Regions from separate parts of the Homo sapiens genome. Here regions 1, 2, 3 and 5 are each linked to region 4. Evidence: fine-mapped expression QTL. A gene starts in region 4. Each other region holds a variant in brackets. All regions are shown on one strand. Distances are from middle to middle. Region 1 overlaps PRKCA (protein kinase C alpha). Region 2 overlaps PRKCA (protein kinase C alpha). Region 3 overlaps PRKCA (protein kinase C alpha). Region 4 holds the start of PRKCA (protein kinase C alpha). Region 5 has its middle 22 kb from the start of CACNG5.

Region 1 (5,103 bases), 500 kb after region 4:
AAACAAAAAAACCTCAGATGAGTGTTGGGTGAATCTGTCATCTGGTACCCTCCTTGGTTGATAACTGTCTTGATACTTTTCATTCTTTGTAAGAGGCCAAATCGTCTAAGGACGTTGCTGAACAAGCGTGTGAAATCATTTCAGATCAAGGATAAGCCAGTGTGTACATATGTTCATTTTAATCTCTGGGAGATTATTTTTCCATCCAGGGTGCCATCAGTAATCATGCCACTACTCACCAGTGTTGTTCACCAACACCCACCCCCACACACACCAACATTTTGCTGCCTACCTTGTTATCCTTCTCAAGAAGCTGAAGTGTACGCCCTCTCCCCTTTTGTGCTTATTTATTTAATAGGCTGCAGTGTCGCTTATGAAAGTACGATGTACAGTAACTTAATGGAAGTGCTGACTCTAGCATCAGCCTCTACCGATTGATTTTCCTCCCTTCTCTAGCCCTGGATGTCCACTTAGGGATAAAAAGAATATGGTTTTGGTTCCCATTTCTAGTTCACGTTGAATGACAGGCCTGGAGCTGTAGAATCAGGAAACCCGGATGCCTAACAGCTCAAAGATGTTTTGTTAATAGAAGGATTTTAATACGTTTTGCAAATGCATCATGCAATGAATTTTGCATGTTTATAATAAACCTTAATAACAAGTGAATCTATATTATTGATATAATCGTATCAAGTATAAAGAGAGTATTATAATAATTTTATAAGACACAATTGTGCTCTATTTGTGCAGGTTCTTGTTTCTAATCCTCTTTTCTAATTAAGTTTTAGCTGAATCCCTTGCTTCTGTGCTTTCCCTCCCTGCACATGGGCACTGTATCAGATAGATTACTTTTTAAATGTAGATAAAATTTCAAAAATGAATGGCTAGTTTACGTGATAGATTAGGCTCTTACTACATATGTGTGTGTATATATATGTATTTGATTCTACCTGCAAACAAATTTTTATTGGTGAGGACTATTTTTGAGCTGACACTCCCTCTTAGTTTCTTCATGTCACCTTTCGTCCTGGTTCCTCCGCCACTCTTCCTCTTGGGGACAACAGGAAGTGTCTGATTCCAGTCTGCCTAGTACGTTGGTACACACGTGGCATTGCCGCAGCACCTGGGCTGACCTTTGTGTGTGCGTGTGTGTGTGTTTCCTTCTTCCCTTCAGCCTGTGACTGTTGCTGACTCCAGGGGTGGGAGGGATGGGGAGACTCCCCTCTTGCTGTGTGTACTGGACACGCAGGAAGCATGCTGTCTTGCTGCCTCTGCAACGACCTGTCGTTTGCTCCAGCATGCACAAACTTCGTGAGACCAACACAGCCGTGCCCTGCAGGCACCAGCACGTGCTTTTCAGAGGCTGCGGACTTTCTTCCAGCCATTGTGGCATTGGCCTTTCCAGTCTTGGGAGGAGCGCGCTGCTTTGGTGAGACACCCCCATGCAAGGTCCTCAGAGTAGCCGGGTTCTACCACAAACAGAAACAGAATGAAAGTAGCTGTCAGTCCTTGTAGAGAGCCGCTCTGTTTCCTCCCAGAAGCATCTCCCAGCTAAGCTCGCATTATTTTTCTCCTCTGGCTGTTTGCCTGAAGTTCACAGAACACACAACCATGAAAGGCTTTTTGAGGTGAGAGGCCCAGGTGGTCCTGGCAACCCTGAGTAGAAGGAGAGACGGGGTAGGGAACGGGCCCGGCCAGAAAAGAACCATTTCTTCTGCCATCTTTTATGCACCATAGACATCGAGACTCCAGGGGGTCCTGGCTCCCCTGTCCCTGCAGCCCTGCAGGTCAGTGCATGATCTGGGTTCGTGTCCTGACCAGGTGCTCCTCCTTTGATCCGAGGGGAAAGGGACTGGTTTATAGAAAGAGCCTAGGAGACAAAAGGGCCAGTCCCCCTGCCCAGAATGGAGCAGCAGCAGGACAGACCCCCACGAGGCCCCCCAGAGAGGAGGAAGATCCCACGGAGGAACACATGAGGTTAGGGACCCTTGTTCAGCACCCCAAACAGCCTGCCTGTTTAAAGCAGGCAGCAGGCTTAGGCCTTCCCTGCAACCCCAACACCCACAAGTTTGTTTCTCTAGGAAACACATTCACTGTCTCAGCTGGCTGTTACTCTCTCAGACCATATGGCAAAGTTTTCCAAGAAAATGCCCCGACAGGGGTGC[C/T]CAGCACACTGCCTGAGGGACAACAGACATCAGAACAAACCCCCAGAGAGAAACAGTCAAAATCAGGGCCCGGTGCAGTGTTGTCATGTGGAACCTGCTTTATCCATTGCTGAGTGTTGAATGTGGGTAATGGTTAGGGCTTTCCAGATCTCAGCAGCCAAAGACAGTTATTGTTGGAAGACTGTCATGTAGATAACCATGAGCAATGGCTCGCCTCAGAATCAGTTCATAAAATTCTATGGTACTGGCCCCTTCGTGGGTATTGTGTGAAATGAGATGGTGGCGAGGGGTGCGCTGTGGAACTGCCGCAGCCACGCAGGAGGTCCCTGGGGGATGCTTTGGGAAGTCCTTGCCCCTGAGCACTGCCTGATTGCCAGGGCCTGTGGAGGTCTAGGCCGCCTGGCAGAATCTAGCACCGTCCGAATCCCCGCAGGACCCATGGAGCTATGACCACACCAGGCCATTCAAATGGCTCTGCATTATCTTCCCTTGGAAGGTGGCCACTCCTCGGTGGCAGGGCCTTTCCCTGAGGCTGCAGGCCGTGGGCTGGCAGCCCGTCTCTTGGCATTTCAATTGAAGGTCACCAGGTGCTGGGTTTGAAAGGAAGTCACTGGAGTGCTGCCAGGGGCCGCCCTCCAAGGTTAATGAGAGGCCCACATCCAGGCAAGAACTAATTCAAAAGGCAGATCAGAAACCACAGGAGTCAAAATTATTGCTCCGGCAGTGCTTCCCTTCCTTTCATCCACTGGCCTCGTGTGGTCCATGCAGGGCCACTGTCTGCCCTTTCTGATGCCACGTATTAGGCTTTCTTACTCAGAATTTTGATAGAAAACCATGGGGCCAAGAGCTCTGGAAGCCTGGCCGGAAAGACCAAGGTTCATGCAGCCCAACAAATGATTGTTGAGCACCTCTCGGAGCCAAAGTCCTTAGGCGAGTGTGGTGACTTCCTGGAAGGAGGATGCAGACTTCCAGAGAGCCCCCCCAACGGACGTGCTGAGAAGGGAGAGGGAGGCGGGGGCTGTAGTCAGGAAGGAGCCAGAGAAGAACAGGGTTTGGGTGCATCCAGAAATATGCCTGCAGTAGGAGGGAGAGGAAGGGGTGCCACCGTCAACGGCTTCCCATCGGAGGTGGTTGGTGCAGATGGAAGTTTCTGTCTGCTGGCCCTCAAGAGAGTGTTTTGCCAGGGACACAGTCTGTTCCTCCTCAGAAAACACCCCCCAAATGCTAACAACATCCCCACCAGCTGCTAGAAGCCCCTTTCCCCTCCCCACCTTGAAGTAGCTCATAGTTCTCTGGGCAGAGCCAGACCATCCAGTGTACCCCAGAGGCCAGTAGGTTCCTGCCCATTTTCCTCTCTGGCTTCCTGCCAAGAATTATGGCAGCTGAGGATGAATGGAGAAGTAAAAACAACTAACACCGCACAACTAACAACTAACACCGCAGTTCCCACCTGGGTTCCACTTAGCAGGAGACATTTCGGAGGGTTTTTTTTGTTTTTGTTCCTGTTTTTTTTTTTTTTGCTGGAATTTGTTTTCTCAGTACTGAAAAGAGAAAAAGTGACAATCTTGTATTTTTAAAAGCCTCGGAAAGGTGATACCATCTGACAGTCATTTTCTCACGTTGGTCTTCTAAAGTCACCTATTTCTTGTGTGTGCACATCACACCATTTCCTGTTTCTTTATAACCCGACAAGGGTAGGAGTGCCTGTTTCCCCTGCTGGGCACACCAGACAATCGTAATCACAAAACAGACACTGAGCCAGGGGCCCAAAGGGTGTGATCATGAGAGTTACCGGGACAGCAGTAGGCATGACAGTCACCAGGAAGGACAAGGGTGCTCTGTTGTTAGTGGCCACACACCAATTTGACAAGGAGTGTTGCGAAATTTTTATTTATTTATTTATTTATTTTGAGATGGAGTTTCACTCTTGTTGCCCAGGCTGGAGTGCGGTGGTACAATCTCGGCTCACTGCAACCTCCACCTCCCAGGTTCAAGCGATTCTCCTGCCTCAGCCTCCCAAGTACCTGGGACTACAGGTGCGTGCCACCACACCCAGCTAAATTTTGTGTTTTTAGTAGAGATGGGGTTTCACCATGTTGGCCAGGATGGTCTTGAACCCCTGACCTCATGATCTGCCTGCCTCGGCCTCCCAAAGTGCTGGGATTACAGGCATGAGCCACCACGCCCAGCCAAAATATTTTTTTAAAGTCATTTTCCTTAAGCTGCTTGGGCTACATGTGAAATACACTGGACGGTCAACATTCCTGTCTCCTCCCATTTGGGCTGATGCAGCAGATCCAGGGAATGTTACCTGTTTCTGCTGCTAGAAGATCCAGGAAATTGGGAAGGTTACCTGACGCACACATGGATGAAGGCCATCATCTAGAAATGGGGTCAACCACAATTGTGTTAATTCCGTAGTGTCAGGGATTCTTCGGGAAGGTCAACAGTATGAAGGATTCTGACCCCTGTGCCTCCCATTTATGTGATCAGGTGACAGTTAATAACCGTGGAGGTCACACTCAGCCATCCAACAGCCTTACAGTGACCCTACACAAAAGCCCCCAAATTCCAAAGACTTTTTCTTAACCTAAAGGAAGAAATTATTTGTTAATTCCAGTAGAGCAACTGAATATACTGGGCTATTTGTACTTTTTTATAGAGAACTTTAATAATAATTCTTTAAAAATGAGTTTTTAGAACAAAGCAACTGACGATTTCCTAAGATTCCAATGCCCTGGAGCTTGTAGGAGGACTTAGCCTGGGTCAGCTGGAGCACCCCCGACCTGATCTCCCACTGCCAGATTTTCCCATGCTCCTAGGGTATGGAGTCCACGTGGGAATGACTGCAAGTTCAGGTGGAACTTGGCCGACTGATGCTCTGCGAGTTTTTAATAGACACTGGGGACAACTGCTTAAGGTTTAGAAACTTCCAAAC
Region 2 (5,103 bases), 62 kb after region 4:
AGGTGATCCACCCACCTTGGCCTCTCAAAGTGCAGGGGATTACAGGCATGAGCCACCACCATGCCCAGCTGGGTTGAGCTCTTTCTCACCTGTACCTTTTAGTGCCACTTCCTCTGAGCAGACTCTCCCACTCTTTAGCCTTCCTGATGCCTCTTGGCTCTCCAGGCTGGGTGTCATCTGTCCTCTGCTCAATTGTCCCACGATTTCCAATGTTCAATGTTATAATTGCCTGGTGGTTGTTGGATGCCTTCACTGGATCCTGAGCTCCTTAAGGTTGAGATAAGTCTCACTTTTGTGTCTCATGGGCCTGGGACACAGGAGATAACAGGTGAAGTCTGTTGATCTTACCTGATGGGGAAATGTATTTTTTCTGTCTCCCTCAACTAGTGAGGTGCCTTGCAGGTTTTTTTTTTTTTTTCCTCTTTGTTTTTTAATTTTTTGAGACAGAGTCTCAGTCTATATAGCCCAGGCTGGAGTGCAGTCGTGCGATCTTGGCTCACTGCGACCTCTGCCTCCCAGGTTCAAGCAATTCTTATGCCTCAGTCAGCCGAGTAGTTGGGATTACAGGCATGTGCCGCCATGCCAGGCTAATTTTTGTATTTTAGTAGAGATGGGATTTTGCCATGTTGTCCAGGCTGGTCTCAAACTCCTGGCCTCAGGGGATCCACCCGCCTCAGCCTCCCGAAGTGTTGAGATTACAGGTGTGAGCCACTGTGCCTGGCTGCCTTGCGGGCTTTTAGGCACCTCAATGTCTAGTTTTGTCAGAATAGCATCCTAGAGGTCTTAGAAATCTTACCTGTTGGAGAAAGTTTTAAAGTGCCCCAAACATCCCAGCAGTTGTACATCCTTTCACTCACACTAAAATTCATCCTGTTTTGCTTTCACAGGTATGTACATTTTGATGAAAAGACACTGCAAAGATGAGCACCAGCTAGCCAAATTGTGTAGTAAACATTGCATGTCTATCTGTGTGTGTTTTATTGTTTTGTTATTTTATTTAGTCAACCCTTTTGTTATTTTACCATAAGTTCATTTACACAGGGTAATCTTCTCCCATTACAGTTGCATGGAAGGAATCTTAGAGGAAACAGTTACTGATTTTCTTAGTGTGAGACCAGAAAAATGAAGCGTTGGTATTGGCCTTGGGGATTTGCTGTCCTTTATCCTCGGTAAAGCAAACCAGCCATCCGAATGTAAAGGCAGCTCCTTTCTTTCCATAAGTAATAAGTCATGATTTCTTAATGAGGCAAATTATCTATCATTTAGTGAATTCATAGTATTTGTTACAAGTAAATTCATTAAGAAAGAGCGCTATTCCAATAAAGCCAATTTAATTACGCAGACAATTAAGGGGCATCTTCCATGTGCTCTGCACTGTGCTAGCCACGGGGTGGATATAGAAATGGACAAACTAGGGATGGGCTTATTTATTTATTTATTTGTTTGTTTTGAGACGGAGTCTCACCCTGTCACCCAGGCTGGAGTGCAGTGGCACGATCTTGGCTCACTGCAACCTCTGCCTCCCGGGTTCAAACGATTCTTCTGCCTCAGCCTCCCGAGTACCTGGGACTACAGGCGCGTGCCACCATGCCTGGCTAATTTTTGTATTTTTAGTAGAGATGGGGTTTCAGCATATTGGCCAGGCTGGTCTGAAACTCCTGACCTTGTGATCTGCCTGCCTTGGCCTCCCAAATTGCTGGGATTACAGGCATGAGTCACCGTGCCTGGCCTGGAATGGGCTTTTTAAAGGAGATTATAGCCAAGGGCAGTGGTGTGCACCTGTAGTCCCAGCTACTCAGGAGGCTGAGGCAGGAGGATCACTTGAGCTCAGGAGCACTGAGCTGTAGTGCACTGTGCCAGTTGAGTGCACTAAGTTTGGCATCAATATGGTGACCTCCCAGGAGTCGGGGACCACCAGGTTGCCTGAGGGAGGTGTGAACCTACCCAGGTCAGAACTGGAGCAGATCAAGACTCCCATGCTGATCAGTAGTGGGATCTCACCTGTGAATAGCCACTGCACTCCAGCCTGACCAACATAGACCCCATCTCAATCAATCAGTAAATTCATTTATTCATTCATAGGAATCACAGACAAGGGAGTCACTTACCATAAAAAATATACAAAATAAATGACTCCAGAGGCATAAAACCAAAGGGGTTTTGTGCCAAAAAATAGGAATCAAGGAAGTAACATTTGAATTTGATCTTAGGGAATGGATGTACCTTAAACAAGTAGCCCTGTATGGAGAAGAGGAGAGAGGGAACGATAATGAAGAACAGAGACGTGGAGGCCGGAAGATGCCAGCTCTACCAGAAAAAGTAGCAAAAGTCAATGTGATTGAAGTAGGGGGAGTGCGGGAGCAGGGAGGGTGTGATTGATGCCTGGCAGCTGCCCGTAACGTATGATGCAGTATGGTTTTCGCCTGATTTGGGGTTTCCAGTTCTCCCTGGCTGCTGACGGGGCTCCCTCAGGCACACATTAATGGATTCACTCAGCCAGTGATTTTTCTGTTTTCTCTTTCATTTCCACTTTTCTATCCCATCATGGTTTTCTGCATAACCCCATCTGATTTTAGACCAATTTTGATGTGATTTTTTTCTTCTACGTGAGTGGCTCAGTGAAGGCTTTCGAATACTATTTTCCCACTTGCATACTGTTTCAGAACTGAAGAAGGTAAAATCTAATTGTACCAGGTTTTTGAAAAGCAGTAGTTTCCATTGTATGTGTTTAAAAAGTCCCCAAAGGTCTATCTGTAAGAATCTTTGAAAAGACACATTGCAGCCCAAACCTTAGGAGAAAAGAAAAAGGGGACTTCACATTGTAAAAGCAGCATTTATCTTTGCATCTTGAAGTTCCTAGAATAGGCTCT[C/T]GCCTTTATAAGTGGAGTTTTCTTGTGGCTTTTGTGGGGAGAATTCACTAGAATTAGGGCAGATTTTCTGGAAAGTCCCGAAATTCAGTGTTCTGTTGGATTTCTGGCATCTATTGAGCAAGACAGTTGGGATAATGAGTCTTGGTATTAAATGTATTCTACGGGAGGGAGGAGAGAGAAGTGGGAGGAAGGTGTATCCGTCTTGCTGGCTTCCTGCAGCTTAAGTAGGAGGAAGAAAAGGAGAGGGTGTGAGTAGATGACCCAAGCCCTGGACTAAGCCCTTTAGGTACATGATCTCATTTAATCCCCTTTTCAGAGGAAACTGCCTGAGATATGTTTGACCCAGGCTTTGTGCTCTTAGCCACTAAATGGCTTCCCTTTACTGATGATTTTACTCTGCCTTTATCCTATAGTTACTTATAGGCAGCTATATTTACTTCCTCCAAATAGATTAACTCTTTGTATACTCTTTGGTACCTGGAATAAGTCCTGTGTAATCCTAAACGCTCAATAAATATTTCTTAAAATGAAGATAATTCTCCTTGACAGAAAATTGATCTTACTGAGCATATATCCACTGAGAAAACAGACGTATGAATGTTTAATACTCCCTGATTATCGTATGCTTTCTTATTTAAGCAGAAGTATTAAACGCATGCCAAAGGCTCACATAAATGATTTATTATGCACCAATTAACGTTATCTGAGCCATGGTTTTTCTTTGTTGTTATGAATTGAGCATTGACAGCAAGGCAGCACTCATTTACCTTTTGTTTCTATGCAGAAAACATTTCAAATAGGCAACTGTTGTCTCTCCTGAGTAGTCTGAGAAATGTGAATGGAGACATTTGTATTAGGTGTCCATCTCGTGACCAATATGCTTTGTACTTTTGAAGTTTGCTTTATCCTTAAGATTGTGAGAACTGTAAATCTGCCACTGGAACCATCCCTGCAGATTGTCATAATGTGATCAGCTCTAAAAAGCTTCCTGCTTTTTAGAGTGTGTACCCTTAAGGATAACAATCATATAGATAACCTTTTAGATGTCAACACAGGCGATCTTTTTATGTGTTTTATTCATGATGCAATTTACAGTACTTAAAGGAAAAAAAATCCAGAAGCCTTACAAGGTCTTTAATAAGTACAAATATAGATTGCTATAGGTAGAAAGTATGCTTTAAAGCAAACTTTTTTACACCATTTTCTGAGGCTTTTATTAATTACTCTGTTTTCCAGCGAGGCTTTTTCATAGGGATATGCACCTGACTAACTTATTAAAAGTAAATTGCCTTTGTGGTCTTATTTTCAGGGCGTGGTGCTGAAGTTAGAAGGCGATTGGGCAGTTTTGTTTTCTACAGAGAAAACACAATCTGGGAAGAGATCTTAATTGACCTATTAGCTGAATTGAGGAGATGAATTAGTTGTAGAAAATTTGTCAAAGTTAAATAATAGCAGTGAGTTTGAAGGGGTGAGCTAGCAGAACTAGAAGAGAAAGGAGAATGAGAAGTAACTCACAGGCCAGCTGCATAATGGGTAGAGCGAGCTATAGGTGAACTGTGAGTAGCTGGCTTGCTCTGTTGGCTGAATTCCTTGAAAAGAAAGGATGAGACATTTTTACTCCAGTAAATCTTATGTGTATCTCTTGTGGATTGAAGAAATTATTGACTCAATATGATTTAAGTTAGAGACAAAGCACACTCACAAAATTCCAAAATCAGTCTTTTAAAAAAAGCACTTCATAGTGAGCAAATTTTAAATTAAATCATCATCTAAATTGTGACATGCATTGAGAGGAACAGGTGAGGTTTTTACTCCACGTTGGTCTCCATGTAACAATAATTTTCATGTCAAAATGATCTTTTCAGGTTTTCAGGTTGCCCTCTTCCCCTCTCCTTTCTGTTTTCAGATAATTGGATGAAAGTAAAATCTTTTGAAAACATTGCTTTCAGCGTGCCAAAAGCAAGGCATTTATAACTGGCCTCAATTTGCAAACAATTTAGGAGTTTGATAAGTTTCTAACAGGACCATGGTGAGTTCACAAAATCTGATTTCTTTAATGGAAACAAAAAGTGTGCTTTGTGGAAGTTGATGTTAGGAATTACAAAGAAACCCACTGTTCAGCACAAGTGCGCAGGCCTTTGGCCAAGAATTCCTCAGCTTGGAACCTGAGCTAAGAAAAAGCCCCTGGTCACACCTGTGGATAAAAGACTTAGTGAGAGCTGGGAGGACAGGT
Region 3 (5,103 bases), 360 kb after region 4:
GAAAATCTCTTAGCCTTGACATCATCAAAGAAGAGAGATTCGTCATCTCATGATGAAGAGAGATTCATCTCAATTTCTTGTTTCTTTGGGGTTTTTGTTTTGCTTTGGTTTTTTTTTTTTTTTTTTTTTTTTTTGGCAATGTCTTGCTGTTTCACTCAGGCTGGAGGGCAGTGTTGCGATCATAGCTCACCGCAGCCATGATGAGCTGCCGGGCTCAAGTGATTCTTCTGCCTCAGCCCCTGTAGCTGGGACTACCACACCCAGATAATTTTTTAAATGTTTGTACAGATAGGGTCTGACCACATTACCAGGCTGGTCTCACACTCCTGGCCTCAAGCAATCTTCCCACCCCAGTCTACCAAAGTGATGGGATTACAGGTGTGAGCCACTGTGCCCGGCTCATTGCAGTTTTATATGCCAACCCTGAAAGCAGAAAATTGTATCCCCACTGAAGTGCTGGTTCCATGAACCCAGGATTTTTATGGGTCTTATTCATTGCAGAATCCCCGAACTCATGGTGCCTGGGACCCAGCATGTTCTCAGTGTGTGTCCGAATAACACTGGAGGGTTTTTTCTGGATGATACTGATAATTACAGAAGTTAAGAGTTATTAAGTGCTTATTTTGTGCCAAGCACTATGCCAAGGGTTTTACTTGTATAATCTTTTTTAATACTTAAACGGTTCCTATTGCATGAAACTCTTACCTTCATTTAAATGGAGGCATAGAGGATTTCAGGAACTTGCCAGGTGACAAGGTGGAGCTAGAACTTGAATCTAGGCAGAACATTTTTATCTGTGTCCTGAGAGTTTCCATGAGAACATGACCAAAAGGTTTTCTGGTATACGCTGAGTCACCTGCATGAGTGTTCATTCAGAACCATCCTCCCAACACCCTGCACAGTGGAGATGCCCTGAGAAGGGAGCATCGCTGGGCTTGGGGCTGAGTGTAGGAGTGGCAAGAGGGGGTCCAAGTACCTCCCATGGCTCATTAAAGTCACCTGAGTAGACCTGCTAAGCACTCACTCCTCCATGCCGGATTTCTCAAAGTGTGCTGCTGGTCTACCTGGAGTGGGGTAGAGTACTTCCCCACCCCAGGCTTCCTGAATCAGATTCTCTAAGAACAAGCGCAGAGCCTGCAAGTAAATTCTATTGTTAGTGAGTTCTCCAAGGTGGTTCTTAGGCACCTAACATTTGAGACCTGCAGCTATGGGTATTTTTGCTCCTAGCCTTGCGGTATGTTAGATTTACTTAAAAACATACAAGTGTCTATATGTTTGGGATGGTGTTGGAGGGAATTTATTAAAACTAGAGTTCTTCTTTATCCAGAAAAGCACACACATTAGGAAAGGCAATAGCATCTGAAGACAGAGGAGTGGCGTGTAGCTCATTTTGGCCTTTCCTGTTGAAGGCCCCCAGGTTCACTCTTGGGATGACCAGGCCCCTAGAGACCAATTCCAATGTAGTCCTGACTGGGCAGTCCATCAGGATGCCAGTTTATGAATTTACAGAGAACAATAAAGTTGACCATGTGACTTGATGAGAGCAATCAGTGTAGAGAAGATACCAGGCAAGGCATAATGAACCCATTTTATTGATTTGTCAAATTAAGCACCATCACATAGACTACATAGAGCAGAAATCCGCTTTGGGAGTGCCTTCTCCCCTACAGACAAACCTGAGGGGACTCAGAATGCTGCCTAGCAAACATAGAATTATAACAAGGGGATGTGATAAATGTTGGATGGCAGCAGACTAAGGTTTAACATTCATCTCAAGTTAGAGGCGGCTGCTGTGCTGCTGGGGCCAGAAGCACTTGAAGTCAAATGCTTAGATGCCGCTCCTTGGACCTGTGTCATAGGCTCTGCTGACATTTGCCTGGAGCCTCTGCTTTCTCGCTGCTCATTTGAACATATTCATACTGGACACAAGCTGGTCCTACAAGCCTAGTACCTCTCAGAACCCTCTCTCCTTCAGGGGACTTTGAGAAGCTCTGCTCTGATCCAATATTGATGAATCCAGTAGTTTGTTGATTTCCAAAGAAAGATCTTGCTTTCCTCATTTCCTACTACCCAAGGAAGGGAGAATCACCTCATTATGGCTCCAAATTTCAACAGATGTTATATAAAGGGCTATATAAGTATTCCTGTATCTTCATTCTTTGCAAAAATGCCTTCCCCAAAATCTGACTCTTTGTCTGTCAGATAAATGATATGTAGAATTTTGTATCTTACCTTCTAGGAGAAAGAGTAGTCGTAACTCTCCATGCCTCTCCAGGGAACCCTTTGAATCCCCCCCCCACACACAAATTTAGAGATTATTTCCAGGACAAAGGACTATATGAAGGACCCTTAACTATCTAGTACCCAGACTAGTAACGTAGACTTTGGTGATACCATGAAAACGAAGGCATAATCATGTGCTATGAAAATGGATTAGGAAGCAGCTTCTGTTCACAGTAGAAAGAATCTTAGAGATTTCCCTGTCCAGCCAACTCCTTTGTTTTCCAGACTGAATATAAAAACTCACTAAAGATTGCCCAAGAAAGTGAGCAGCAGGACAGAGCAAGCCGAAGGTCCCTGCCCAGTCCCTTCCCCCACCTCTGCCACCTTTTAAATCCCATCTGGAATGTCTGCGTGTTTAGTTCAGTTGGAGGTTAGGGATCTAGGAGGTAAAATGGCCACCAGGATGATGTCAAATCGAGTTAAACAGATACAGCCTTGGCCTTTAAAGAACAGACCACACTGGAGGCATATGTATTCATCCGTTCTTACACTGCTAATAAAGACATACCTGAGACTGGGTAATTTATCAAGGAAAAAGGTTTAATTGGCTCAGAGTTCAGCATGTCTAGGGATGCCTCAGGAAACTTACAATCATGGTGGAATCTTCACATGGCGGCAGCAAGGAGAAGTGCAGAGTAAAGCAGGGAAAAGCCCCTTATAAAGCCATCAGATCTTGTGAGAACTCACTCACTATCACAAGAACAGCATGGAGGTAACTGCCCCCATGACTCAGTTACCTCCCACCAGGTCCCTCCCACAACACATGGGGATTAGGGGAACTACAAGATGAGATTTGGGTGCAGACACAGGGCCAAACCACATCAAGGAACCACATTCAAAAGCC[A/C]CCCACACAGGGACAAGTTAACAACATGAAAGCAAAGGTAAGAGTGTCTGCCATGAGAACTGATGGTAGGCAGCTTAGATGTGAAGTGAGTGGCCAAGAGTAATTTATTCCTCTTCCAATTAACCAGACTTTCTAGAAACAGTGGAATTCCAAGAGCTACTTAAGAAATCGAGATATCCTTGCATTTCTGGATTGAATTGCGGTAACCAGTTGGTAACCTCTGAAATGCAATCTCTCTTATGTCCCTCTGAAATGTTAAGAAGATTCAGGAAGTGACAGAAACCCACGATCAAGACTGGCAAACCACTTACTGCCACCTTGGAGAAATTTCTGTTGCCCGTTAGCCCAGTGGTCAAGTGTTAAGAAACAATTATCAGTGGTCTGGCCATACTGGATGCATGAAAAAACCAAAGTCCTGCACACCTGAAAGAAAGCAAGAAGATTTTTTGGGCCTCCCCTTTTGCTCAGATAAACAGGGTCTTCGACCAGCCAAAAAACCTGGGAGGCACTCCTTTGCTATGGAGTTTCTCTCATTTCAGAGGACCAAAATAGTGTCTTCTCTCATCTTTCCATACAGTCTACAAATAGACTGTAACTTCCAAAGGAAAAAGAAAAGGGCTGTTGTTGGTGAGTTATGTCCTGAGGGTTAGCAGCTCTGCAAGCGAAGTATAGTGGACACAGGTGTGGAGGTGAGAAGAACTTCAGGGTCAGGGGATTCTAACTTTAAACGGACTTCACAGATTCAAGATGTGTAATTACCAAGCACTGTGAATTGGAATTACCAAGCACTGTGAATTGGATATGATCCTACCTGGCTCCAGCAAAAACACACTCGTCATTGGACTAAGAGCCATGAACATCAACTTGAGTGCCCTGGAAGAGGGAAGCAAGTTCTCTAGTGTCCCAGTAGACAGTGGATAGAGCCAATGTGGCATACAAACAGTATCTTTGGGCAAATAACACATCTAGATGTACTTGTCTTTGAGGACAAGTAAAGAAAGAAAACAAACCCAAAATATGGGGCCCATTTTTAAAACATGGGAGATAAAGGGATAGTATCATGGAGAACATATTTGAATATAGATTATTGGAAGAAAAGAAATTACAGAAGAGTATTTGAGAAAACTCCATACACATTATAATAGGGTGCAGGAGGCTGGGCACAGTGGCTTACACCTGTAATCCCAGCACTCTGGGAGGCCAAGGCAAAAGGATCACTTGAGGCCAGAAGTTTGAGACCAGCCTGGGCAACATAGCAAGTTCTGCCTCTACAAAAAAATTTAAAAATTAGCCAGGCATGGTGGCACACACCTGTAGTCCCAGCTACTCAGGAGATTGAGGTGGGAGGATTGTGGAGCCCATGAGTTCAAGGCTGCAGTGAGCTATGATCTCATCACTGCACTCCAGCCTGAGTGACATAGTGAGACCCTCTCTTTAAAAAAAAAAAAATGCACAATCTCTGTAAAACAGGAACATAATGCCATTTGAACAAACAGGTTGAGAGGAAAAGCAAGCAGAATGAGATTTTTTAAAATGATAGTGGGCTATATAAAGAGACAGAAAAGATGAAAGGAAGTGGACAAGTAAATGCCAGTTTCCAGTAAGGAAATTTATAGTACATAATTAAAATCTTTGTGGTGCAACAAACAGCAGAATTGGCATTGCAGAAAATCAAATCAGCGCTGTGCAAGAATCCTGGGAAGCTCTTCTAGAATGCAGGCAAAAGGACAAAACCATGGTGATGAAAGAGAGAATAATGAAAAATGGAAGACTGGGAACAGGATATAAATTGAGAATAATAGCTTTGTCCCAAAGATAAAAGAAGAAAAAATTGAAAAAGAAGCACTAATTCAATATGATAGGACCAAATTTATGGAGCATTCAAATGAAAAGGAATGCACTCTGTTCCTACAAAATTAACCAAAAGAAGTCTGCATTTAGAAGCATTCTGGGCTGGGTGCGGTGGCTCACACCTG
Region 4 (5,103 bases):
GCAGCAAGCTGTAAATTGTATCTGAAAGACCGCTGGCTTCAAACCATTGGGATTCTGAGTCATCTGTTTGGTGGTCTGACTTTGATCCCAGCCTCCAGCCTCTGGGTCCCCCTGGTCTAGGTGACACCTCTCCAAACAGTGTTGAGCTTACTCCTCAAAGGCAGAGGACAGAAGCGGATTCTGAAAAACTCTGCGTTCAGTCTGACATTCCCTGTTCTTTTCCCGCACCTTCCCCATGAAATAGCAGACTCGAAAATAAAATTTACTCATGCCCTCATGACTGACTGACTACCCCCAACCCAGGGGGTTCTCCCGTCCTTAATCTCCTCCATTTTAGTTATACCATGGGGACTTCAGGTAGGCTGCAGGAGTAGATGCTGGCCCACATTTCCATCAGTCCTTGCTAGGGACAGTGTTACACTGCTTGGTAATTGATAAATCCCCACTCTGGGTGCACAGTCCCCTCTCCCCAACTGAGCTAAGATGTGGGCTATTGATGCTTTCATGCCCAGCCCAACCATGAATCAGTTGACTTCCAGTCAATCATTCCTCCTCGTACCCACCAGGAACAACACTAACAACTGAGGCAAGAATGCAAAGCCACAACCTAAAAGAAAACAGACACATTGTTCCATCTGATCTACTGACAGCTAAGACAGTCACTCCATGGAGTACACAGGAGATTCGCAGGCTGCTGCCAGGGCTCATTCTGTTCTTGTCTTTCCTATGACTTTACTCAGGATTCCATTATCAGCAACTTCACCCTCCAGCTCTCTCCATCCTCCTATGAAAGCCTCAGGGACATAGAAATAAGCTTGTCTTTGTAAAATGTGCCAGGATCTCCGTCTTAGATAAAAGACGACTATGAGAAAAGAAATTATTTCATTCCACTATGTTCCATTTGATTTCTGCTTTCAAGCAATAAACCACCATGGCTTGAGATGCTTCTAGTGTTTCATGGAGAATTGGGACTATTTCCCCAACATGCCCTGCTCTTCATTCCTCTTTGCTTCTTCCCTTTTTGACTCCTTGGACCCGAGGGGCGACCATGAGTGGCGAAATTTCTGACCAGCTAGAATACCAGGCAGGTGCAGGCTCTTGAAGCACCAAGACTGGCTCAAGAGATTGTAAATGGATCAGTCAAGTGCATGCACCACTGACGGCCAGTCAGGAGAGCTTCCATTTGTTAAAAATATAAAGGACATTCCTATCATCAAGCATCACAATTAGGCAATCTCAAAGAAAACAATATTAGCTCTACTTGGCCTATGTTACATGCTCTAAGAAAGTATTTTAGAAAAGTTTTTTTTTTCAACATAAATTTATTGAAGGATCAAACGTGTTCTCTTTCTTGGTCTCTTTAGCTCGTAAAGTCGTTTTGGGGATTTCGTGAATCTGGCAAATAAAACAAAACACCAATGAAACGCTGAGAAATGATTATTTCCCTTATGTATTTTAGCGGCCTCCAGGCAGACCTGATAAATATTCAGCGAGTGATTAGCTGGTGCATCCCCACCTGCGTCCTTTGCATAGCCATGCCCGCTACTCTTTCACAGGCAGTTTTACTTGGTAAGTTACAAACGTACTGGCTGCACTCTGCACCTGACAGTATTGCAGTAATTAGCTTGGGATGCAAAATGATTTCTAAATTAAGGTCCTGGACTTGTAAAATCAAGAAAGCCTGATAATCAACATCGTCGCTCTGGTGGCCATTGAATAACGGGATAAATACCTAAGACAAGTCCTTTAACCATCCCACGTGGTGATAAATGCCCGACGTACAAATTAAAAGTCTCTACCACACGCAGGTGAAATAAGGTATAGGTCAAGAAGAGAAGGTAGGGGAAAGGGTCAATGCTTAATTATTTAAAAATCGCTCTCTTCCTCCTGTAGGAAGGTCTAGGGGCTAGGTCTTTTAGTGCACACGTGATGAAAGTGACATTTTGGCCAGGTGAAACCTCAAGCTGGTACAGGCAGCTAAAACACGGGCGTCGTGCCCTGGAGACACCGGGGGTCCTGAGGATGGGGAAGGGGCTCCCTGCTGCGGGTGCTGAGGGGTTAGGAGGTGAGCACCGGGCGGGAGGCTCCGGGGCAGGGGCTGCGCGTGGAGCCCACTCCCGGACGCGGGCTCCTCTCGGCCCGGCACGGGTGGCGCAGGACTCCGAGCCCGTCGACAAGAGAGAGAGCGGGAGTGGGAGAAGGAAGACCGGGAGAGGAGGAGGCCGGGCGGCAAGAGCGGAAGAAGAGGAGGAGAACTGAGGCGGAGGAGGGCGAGAGGGAGGAGAGCCGGGCGCAGGAAGGGGAGGAAAGAAAAAGGCGGCGGAGGAGCGCGGACCCGCCACTCCCGGCCTCCTCCCCCGCATCCCCACTCGGGCCGGCCCTCCCCCGGCCGCCGCCGCCGCCGCCGCCGCCGCCGCCGCCGCCGCCGCCGCCTCCCCTTGCCCAGTGTTCCCAGCACCGCAAGGCACTCGCTGCCTCCTCCGCACTCGGTCCGGTCCGCTCAGCGCCGCCGCCGCCGCACCCTCGCCGCACCCCCGCGCGCGCCCGGCCCGCGCGCCCCCGCCGCTCGTCCTCGCGGCCTCGCGCTCGGGGCATGCGCGGTGGGCGGTGCCGCTCCGGGCCGCCTCTGCCGCCGCGAGTAGGAAGCGCGAGCGCCGGGCACCGGGCTGTCAGTGAGCCTGGGGCCAGCGGGCGAGCCAGCGGCTCCGGCTCCCGCTCCCGCTCCGCGCAGCACCAGCCCGACTCTCCCCGGCCCCCGCCGCGCCCCCTCGCCGCGACCTCGGCCACCGGCCCGCGCCCCGCGCCCGGGGTCGCCCCGAGCCCGCACCTCTCCCCCGCCGCCCCCGCCCACCCGGCCCTCCGCGGCCGCAGCTCCCCGGCGGAGGCAAGAGGTGGTTGGGGGGGACCATGGCTGACGTTTTCCCGGGCAACGACTCCACGGCGTCTCAGGACGTGGCCAACCGCTTCGCCCGCAAAGGGGCGCTGAGGCAGAAGAACGTGCACGAGGTGAAGGACCACAAATTCATCGCGCGCTTCTTCAAGCAGCCCACCTTCTGCAGCCACTGCACCGACTTCATCTGGTAGGTGCCGGGCCGGGCACTCCTGCCCCGCTCCTCCCCGCCTCCGGGTCCCGGCACCCGGCGCTCCGGCGCGTCCGCCCCGGGGCTGGCTCACTCCGATAACTTGGAACCGGCGGGAGTCCGAACTCTTCGCCCGGAGTGACACGCGCGCCCGGCCCTGACACCGGCGGGCAGGACTCCCGGGACGTCGCCGTCCCGCCACACACACCCCCTGGCGCGAGAGGGAGGCTGGCCCCGTACGGTGGCGAAGGGGATCCCTCTCCGGGCCGGGCCCCTCACCTCCCCGGGCGCGCCCACCCGCACGCACCCAGCGGAGCGGCCGCTTGCCGGGGTGTGAGCCCAGGGGACAGGGGAGGAGGAGAGGCCCTAAGGGGGCAAAGGTTCCCGGAGAAACGCGCCCCGGAGTAACGGGGGAGCGGCGGCGATTGCACTGCGCGCGGTCCAAGTTGCTGGCGAGCCAGGCTGGGCGCGTTCGGGGTGGGGGGGTTGTGTTTGTGCTTCCCATCGGGCTGGACTGCGCTGGCATCTTGGGCCCCTGCCTACTGTAGGCTGCATCTACTGGGCACGGAGAGACTGACTTTTCTGAGTGAGCAGAGAGAGAGAGAGCAAACTGTTGAAAGCTTGCAGTGGGGGAGGGGGAGTTCTAGCAGGCAAATGGCACAAGGGCAGAGGGACTCATTTAAAATAGACCCTGTCGGCCAGGCGCGGTGGCTCACGCCTGTAATCCCAGCACTTTGGGAGGCCGAGGCAGGCGGATCACCTAAGGTCAGTAGTTCGAGACCAGCCTGGCAAACATGGTGAAACCCCGTCTACTAAAAATACAAAATTAGCCGGGCGTGGTGGCACACGCCTGTAATCCCAGCTACTCGGGAGGCTGAGACGGGAGACTCGCTTGAACCCGGGAGGCGGAGGCTGCAGTGAGCCGAGATCGGGCCACTGCACTCCAGCCTGGGTGAGACAGAGCGAGATTCCGTCTCAAAAAAAATGAAACAGACCCTGTCAACTCGAGATTAGACCTGTAACCCTGTTGATGAGGGCAGAGGCCTTATTTAAGAAAAATAATATAAGGGCCAGAGGTCAGAGATCAGGTAATCGCCAATGAATTCAGGCATTCTTAACTCGGAGGGTCCCTGGGGGCTTATGGAGAATCGATACATAGAAGGGCTTCAGGGGTCTCTGAACCCTGTAAAACTGAGGGAAATTGTGTTTGTGAATCTTTTTCCTGGTGAGAGAATTACAGCTTTCATCTGATCCTCAAAAGGTGTGTGACCCTTCTTCCCAGATCCCCGTCACCACACAAAAGTTTTGAAAGCTGGAACTAAAGGAGCTCTAGGTCCTCTAGTTAGAGCAGCAGTAGTTTGGTTTTTCTTTTAAGTTGCCCGACGTCCTGACTCTTCTACCTCTTCTTTGTGGTGTAGGAAGTTCCGGGCAAGACAGAGCTATGGCTAGGGCTTCTTAGCTCCCTCTCCTTCTAGGCCAGGGGGAGCTGCACAGGGTGGCAGTCACGGAGTGAATCCTGCCACCAGCCAGCTGTGTGGCACAGGTATCTTGGGCCACTAGGGTGAGCATAGTATGGATGGCTCTGTCGGAATCCATCACACCTGGGGAAAAACATCCCAAAGGGCAGGTCCCATGATCGTGGTGCGAATAAGGTGTTTAATTTTTCCTTTCCTTTTTAGACATCTGCTCCCAAGTACACTTTTATGAAAAGCACAGCCACCTCTATGAGTGATTTCCACTGTCTAGTCGGCATATGAAGCGACTGTGCTCAAAGGAGTAGGTAGTCGTAGATAAGGCTATTTAAAATAAAAATTTCGGAGCATCAGGGCAAAGAGAATATTGCATTTGGTTAAGAGGAGGTCAGCTGTGAGAGTCCATTAAAAGGGAACAGACTGCTGGTGACTTTTGCAGGAAGTAGGAGAGTTAGAAAGGGACTTGCAGCATACTGAGGCTAGCTATTGTCTTTCCACTATCAGTTGCCCTTGAAGGATCAGCCCCTGGTGAGCTGAAGAGGCGCTCAGGT
Region 5 (5,103 bases), 510 kb after region 4:
AGAACACTTTCATCTCTTCACCTGTTTTTCAGGCATGACCCTCCATTTATAGTGGCATTTTTTTTTTTTTTTTTTTTTTTTTTTTACTTAAAAAATATATCTTGCTTTGAATCAAAGCCCAGACAGTGACTGGGATGGCGTTCTGGCAGGTCCTGCGTTCATTCATTCATGCACTGTTCACAGAGCCCCTGCTTAGGGCCAGGAGTTGTGTCAGGCCCTGGAGAAGAAGAGGCTGGCATGGCCCCTGCCTGCACGGAGCTTACAGTCTTCTGCCCCAAACTGCAAGGGATGCCCAGCAACTGATGACATCATCTAAGGCTGGATGGTGCCCTTCCCCTGGAAGGAACGATTCCAGAATGAATTCTGCTCAAGTCTGGAGATGTTTTCTCCAAAAATAGGTATTTTTCACACATCCCGTTGGCCACACTGTGGATGCAGCTTCAGGACCGTCCCCACTCTGAGTGTCAGCCGCCTCGTTCTGCATTTATTCACGGTTGAAAAATTGGGGGAAATGTTCAAATGTGGAACATTCAAAAATACCCAGCACTTAACAACTCAACGCAATAGAGGGAATTGTCCTCAAAAAGAATTAAAACAGGCTGGGTATGGTGGCTGATGCCCATAATCCCAGCACTTTGGGAGGCCAAGGTGGGAGGATCACTTGAGGCCGGGAGGTCAATGCTGCAGTGAGCTACGATTGCACCACTGCACTGTAGCCTGGGTGACAGAAGGAGACCTTGTCTCTTAAAAAAAAAAATCAACAACAAACACCAAAGCCAAGATCCAACCTTGGTAAAGTCAATCTTTGCTGATTTCCTCACCTCCTTTTGGGGAATGCTCTCCCCTCGTGCTCATGGCTTCAACCCACTGCTGCCACCCTCCCTCCCATAGCCCCCTAATCCTGCAGCCGCCCAGCCCAGCCTGTTCCTCCCAGCACACTCTGCATCCACACACATGCCTCCCTGCGTTCTCTTCCCTCTGGGCCTTGCTCCCAGCCAGATTACTCGAGTGTCAGCATCCTCTCAGTGGATTTTTCCCTCCCTAAGATGCCGCGGTCACACTCAACCTCCTGGAAGTGAAGGCTCTTTCAGCTGCCAATGCGAGGGCTGGCGGGGAAGCTATTTTGAAGAAAAACAAAGGGCAATTTTCAGGTCTTCAGAGCAATGTGGTCTCTGCCCCACTGGGCTGGCCCTGACCTTCACTCCGGGCTGGTTGACCTCACATACGTGTGTAGCTGTGGCTATTCGTCACGTTACGTTGCCCAGCAGAGTAGCTTACCATGGCCATTGAGCATGCCCTCTGCTTCCGCCAGTGTGCTGTTTTATTTCATTTTTGCTGCAATGCGGAATGAAGCAGAGTGGGCCACCAAGCAGCATCCTCACAGGCAGCTGGTGACCCGAGGAACTGAGTAGCTCCACCCAAGTTTACCCCTGCAGGGAGGTCTCGGGTGTATCCAATATGGCTGGTCCTCCCGGCCCCACAGAGGCAGCAGGGACAACCTGAGCACCAGGCAGTGGACAATTGCTCTTCCAGGGGCACTGTGCGCCACCCAAAGTGGATGCTCAAAAACGAGTCCTTCTGTCCAGTACTGGCCTCCCTGTCACATGCCCACCATGCCCATCAAGTTCATGAGCAGGCACTGTTGGGGCTACTCTAAGTCAGGGTTCTCGGCCAGAGGCCATGTAGCCACCCACGGGGCACTTGGCAATGCCTGGAGACTGTTTTGGTTATCATAACTAGAAGGAAGTTGCATTGGCATCGAGTGGGTAGAGGCCAGGGGCGCTGCTAAGCATCCTGCCATGCACAGGATACCCCCAGCCCTCAACAAGGTGTCATCCCACCCAAATGTCGGCGCTGCTGCTGTTACAAACCCTATTCTAAAACACACTCCGAGTTCCCCTTCTCTCCATCTCCCCTGTTCTTTCTCTCTGGCCTCCTTGACCCTCATGGCCCTCTCTGCTCAGCAGCCAGCAGGACCTTGCCTGAGCAGGCCCCTTCCCTGTTGAAAGCCCTCTGTGGCTCCCATCACCCAGCCTTCCTCATGGCCTTTCATCCTCACATGCCCAGCTCTGGGACCAAGGATTCAATGGTTGGGGAGAGTGAGTTCTCTCTCTCTCTGTCTCTGTCTCTCTCTCTCTCTCTCTCTCTCTCTCTGTGTGTGTGTGTGTGTGTGTGTATACGCACACCCTTTCCCATGAGAATAGAAGCTCTAAGAGGAGCCGGCTTGTCCATCCTGTTTGCTGCTACATCCCAGTGCCTAGAGCAGAGCCTGGTAGATAATAGGAGCTCAAAATGTTCATTGAATGACTGAGTCAATTAATCGTTCCCAAAACTGCTCTGAGCCTAGCAACGTGTTCCAGACACCCTTACTGGGCCATGGGATTTGCCCTGGAGGTGTTCACACACTAATGAAGTAGATAAGATATACAAAAAAGAACTAATTAAAGATCATCTCTCAAACTCATGATGAGCTTCAGCCTAGGAAACACCAGTTCTCAACCTCTGTCCTTCAGCCCAGAATCTAGAGGCGATGGCTGCCTATGGTTACACTTGAGTGATTATTTAACTCCCTGAGCTTCCCCCCTGCCCCTGGCTTATTGTGTGCTCTGGGGATGAAATTATGGTTCAGCTAAAATGCTAATGCACACGGGCAAAGGCCAAGGCCATCTATTTTCACACTCTGTCCCCATCCTGGGAGTGCACATCACAGAGAGCAGGGCATTGCCTGCAGGGAGTGGGTGAGAAGTGCTTTTGGCTCTAAGAAAGCAGAACTGGATGTCTCCCCAAGATTCTTTTTTTAACAAAGCTAATTCAATAAATACATTGCAAAGAGGCCTATTCTAGCCATAAGGGGAGAAA[G/C]TGGAAAATGGTTCTAGTGAAATGAAAGAGCTAGTGGTGGGCTCAGGGACTCAACAGACAGGTGGAAATGGCACAAACCAAAAGTCTAAAGGGGGCTGTAAATGGGAACGCGCAAACTGTGCACGCACACACACACGAACACACATGCATACAGAGATGCACACACACACATGCACACAGACACGCAAACACACGCATGCACACAGACACATGTGCACACACAGAGGCACACACACTGATTGATTACCAGAAGTGTACCAGGCACTCTTCTAAGTTCTTTATGTGCATTTATTTCAATCCCACAATGACAGCCCCTGCCCCCAGATAGGTGCTGTTTACTGTGCCCATTTTACAGAAGAAGAAAGGGAATTCCAGGGAACTTAAATAACAACACATAGGTGAACAACACCAGACAAATGGAGCCAACCGAAAGAGCAGAGATGTGAGCACGCCAGATGCCTTCCTGGGGGAGGAGGCAGGGAGGCTGAGGTCTGATGGAAAGGCTGGAAAGGAGAGGTCCCAAACAAGCAGACACCAGCACGCAGGGAGGAGGGGAAGGGCTGGCATGCGCGCAGTGCCTAGCTTGTCATCTGAACACACCCATCTCATTTAATCCTCATGACACCTCCATGGGCTGGAGGCCATTGTTCACATCTCACAGATGGAGAAACTGAACCCCAAAGTAATTAACCAGCTTCCAGATACGCAACTCCTAAGCAGCACAGCCAGGCTGGGCACTGAGTCTGATCTTCCTAGCCTTGTCCCATGAGAGGGTCAGATGTAGCATTGGGTAGGGAGCTTCAGGGCCAGACCCTGTTGGGGAACTTCTCCCCCCACTGTGGTTTCATTCAAAGTCCATCCTATTACCAAGGGGGATGTTCCTTGCCCTTAGCTGACTCTGATGCCTATGAGACTAGATGCCCTCCTGGAACTGTTTCCAGAAGGCTTTCTTCCACCATCACCCTCCTTCTCTCGACATTTTTTTTTTTTTTGGAGCTGTCTGGGCGTGGGAGGAGAGAGAAAAATAGCATCACAGTTCTCAGAACACAGCAGGTGCCTCTGCAGCCGCCCTCACCTGACTGACTTGCCTGGAAGGCCCAGGAGGAAGGAGGAAGCGGGCAGGAACGGCTGGTGGGCCCCAGGCTCCCCCTCCCACCACAGGACAGCCCTACATTGAGACCCCAGCTCCACCTACCCCAGGAGTCAAAAACAATCCAAGGCAAGCATCATCCAGTGAGCAGAACAACTTGTGAGAAATCACTGATTTCTTGGGGGCACTGGGCAGCCCGGGGAGGAAAGGTTGGGCTTGGTTAGGTCAGAATACTGTGGGAATGCTTCTGGGTTTTTGGAAAATTTACAAAAAATAACACCTGCTTATTGTAGCTAATACAGATGAGGAAAAGAAAATCCCAACTTCCCAAGATGGTTAAACTTTTTGATTCCTTGCTAACTTTATTTATTATTCATCATCTTGTTATCTTTTCAAGACTGTACCATGGTATTAGCCTGTTTTCACGCTGCTGATAGAGACATACACGAGACTGAGTAATTTACAAAGAAAAAGAGGTTTAATGGACTCACAGTTCCACGTGGCTGGGGGTGGGGTGCTCACAATCATGATAGAAGGCGAAAGGCATGTCTTACATGACGGCAGACAAGAGAGAATGAGAATCAACTGAAAGGGATAACCTTGATAAAACCATCAGATCTCACGAGACTTATTCACTGCCACGAGAATAGTATGGGGGAAACCGCCTCCATGATTCTATTATCTCCCACTGAGTCCCTCCCACAACACATGGGAATTATGGGAGCTACAATTCGAGATGAGATTTGGGTGGGGACACAGACAAACCATATCAACCTCAAAGCCCTCTTATGAGACTCCACTGGGCCTTGACATTGGTCACTGAAAGCTAGGATCACAGATGTTAACACACACATCCTTTAAACATTTTGTTATGACTTTTTTTTTTTTTGAGGCGGAGTTTCACTTTGTTGCCCAGGCTGGAGTGCAGTGGTGTGATCTTGGCTCACTGCAACCTCCACCCCCCGAGTTCAAGCAATTATCCTGCCTCAACCTCCCGAGTAGCTGCGACTACAGGTTTGCATCATCATGCCCGGCTAATTTTTGTATTTTTAGCAGAGGCGGGTTTTCACTATGTTGGCCAGGCTGGTCTCGAACTCCTGACCTTGTGATCCACCCGCCTCAGCCTCCCAAAGTGCTGGGATTACAGGTGTGAG

The links.
Region 1: its variant is fine-mapped to the expression of PRKCA in whole blood (TOPMed, PIP 0.91).
Region 2: its variant is fine-mapped to the expression of PRKCA in whole blood (TOPMed, PIP 0.95).
Region 3: its variant is fine-mapped to the expression of PRKCA in whole blood (TOPMed, PIP 0.94).
Region 5: its variant is fine-mapped to the expression of PRKCA in unexposed skin (GTEx, PIP above 0.99).

The regions. Positions count from the first base shown.
Region 1 is chr17:66,804,653-66,809,755 of GRCh38, forward strand. It overlaps PRKCA (protein kinase C alpha), which reads left to right. Exons shown (of 17, transcript NM_002737.3): 17 at 1-5,103. Among named protein-coding and RNA genes, the nearest start is that of MIR634, 20 kb to the left of the region's middle. RefSeq lists an enhancer at 2,268-3,117. The variant C/T (reference allele first, on the strand shown) is at 2,166.
Region 2 is chr17:66,362,271-66,367,373 of GRCh38, forward strand. All of the region lies in intron 2 of PRKCA (protein kinase C alpha), which reads left to right. It also overlaps the pseudogene RN7SL735P. Among named protein-coding and RNA genes, the nearest start is that of PRKCA-AS1, 52 kb to the right of the region's middle. The variant C/T (reference allele first, on the strand shown) is at 2,871.
Region 3 is chr17:66,664,540-66,669,642 of GRCh38, forward strand. The region is part of intron 5 of PRKCA (protein kinase C alpha); the gene reads left to right. Among named protein-coding and RNA genes, the nearest start is that of MIR634, 120 kb to the right of the region's middle. The variant A/C (reference allele first, on the strand shown) is at 3,128.
Region 4 is chr17:66,299,945-66,305,047 of GRCh38, forward strand. PRKCA (protein kinase C alpha) reads left to right here and starts at 2,669. Exons shown (of 17, transcript NM_002737.3): 1 at 2,669-3,080. The coding sequence starts at 2,908. RefSeq lists an enhancer at 3,463-3,964.
Region 5 is chr17:66,810,841-66,815,943 of GRCh38, forward strand. No RefSeq gene overlaps it. Among named protein-coding and RNA genes, the nearest start is that of CACNG5, 22 kb to the right of the region's middle. The variant G/C (reference allele first, on the strand shown) is at 2,860.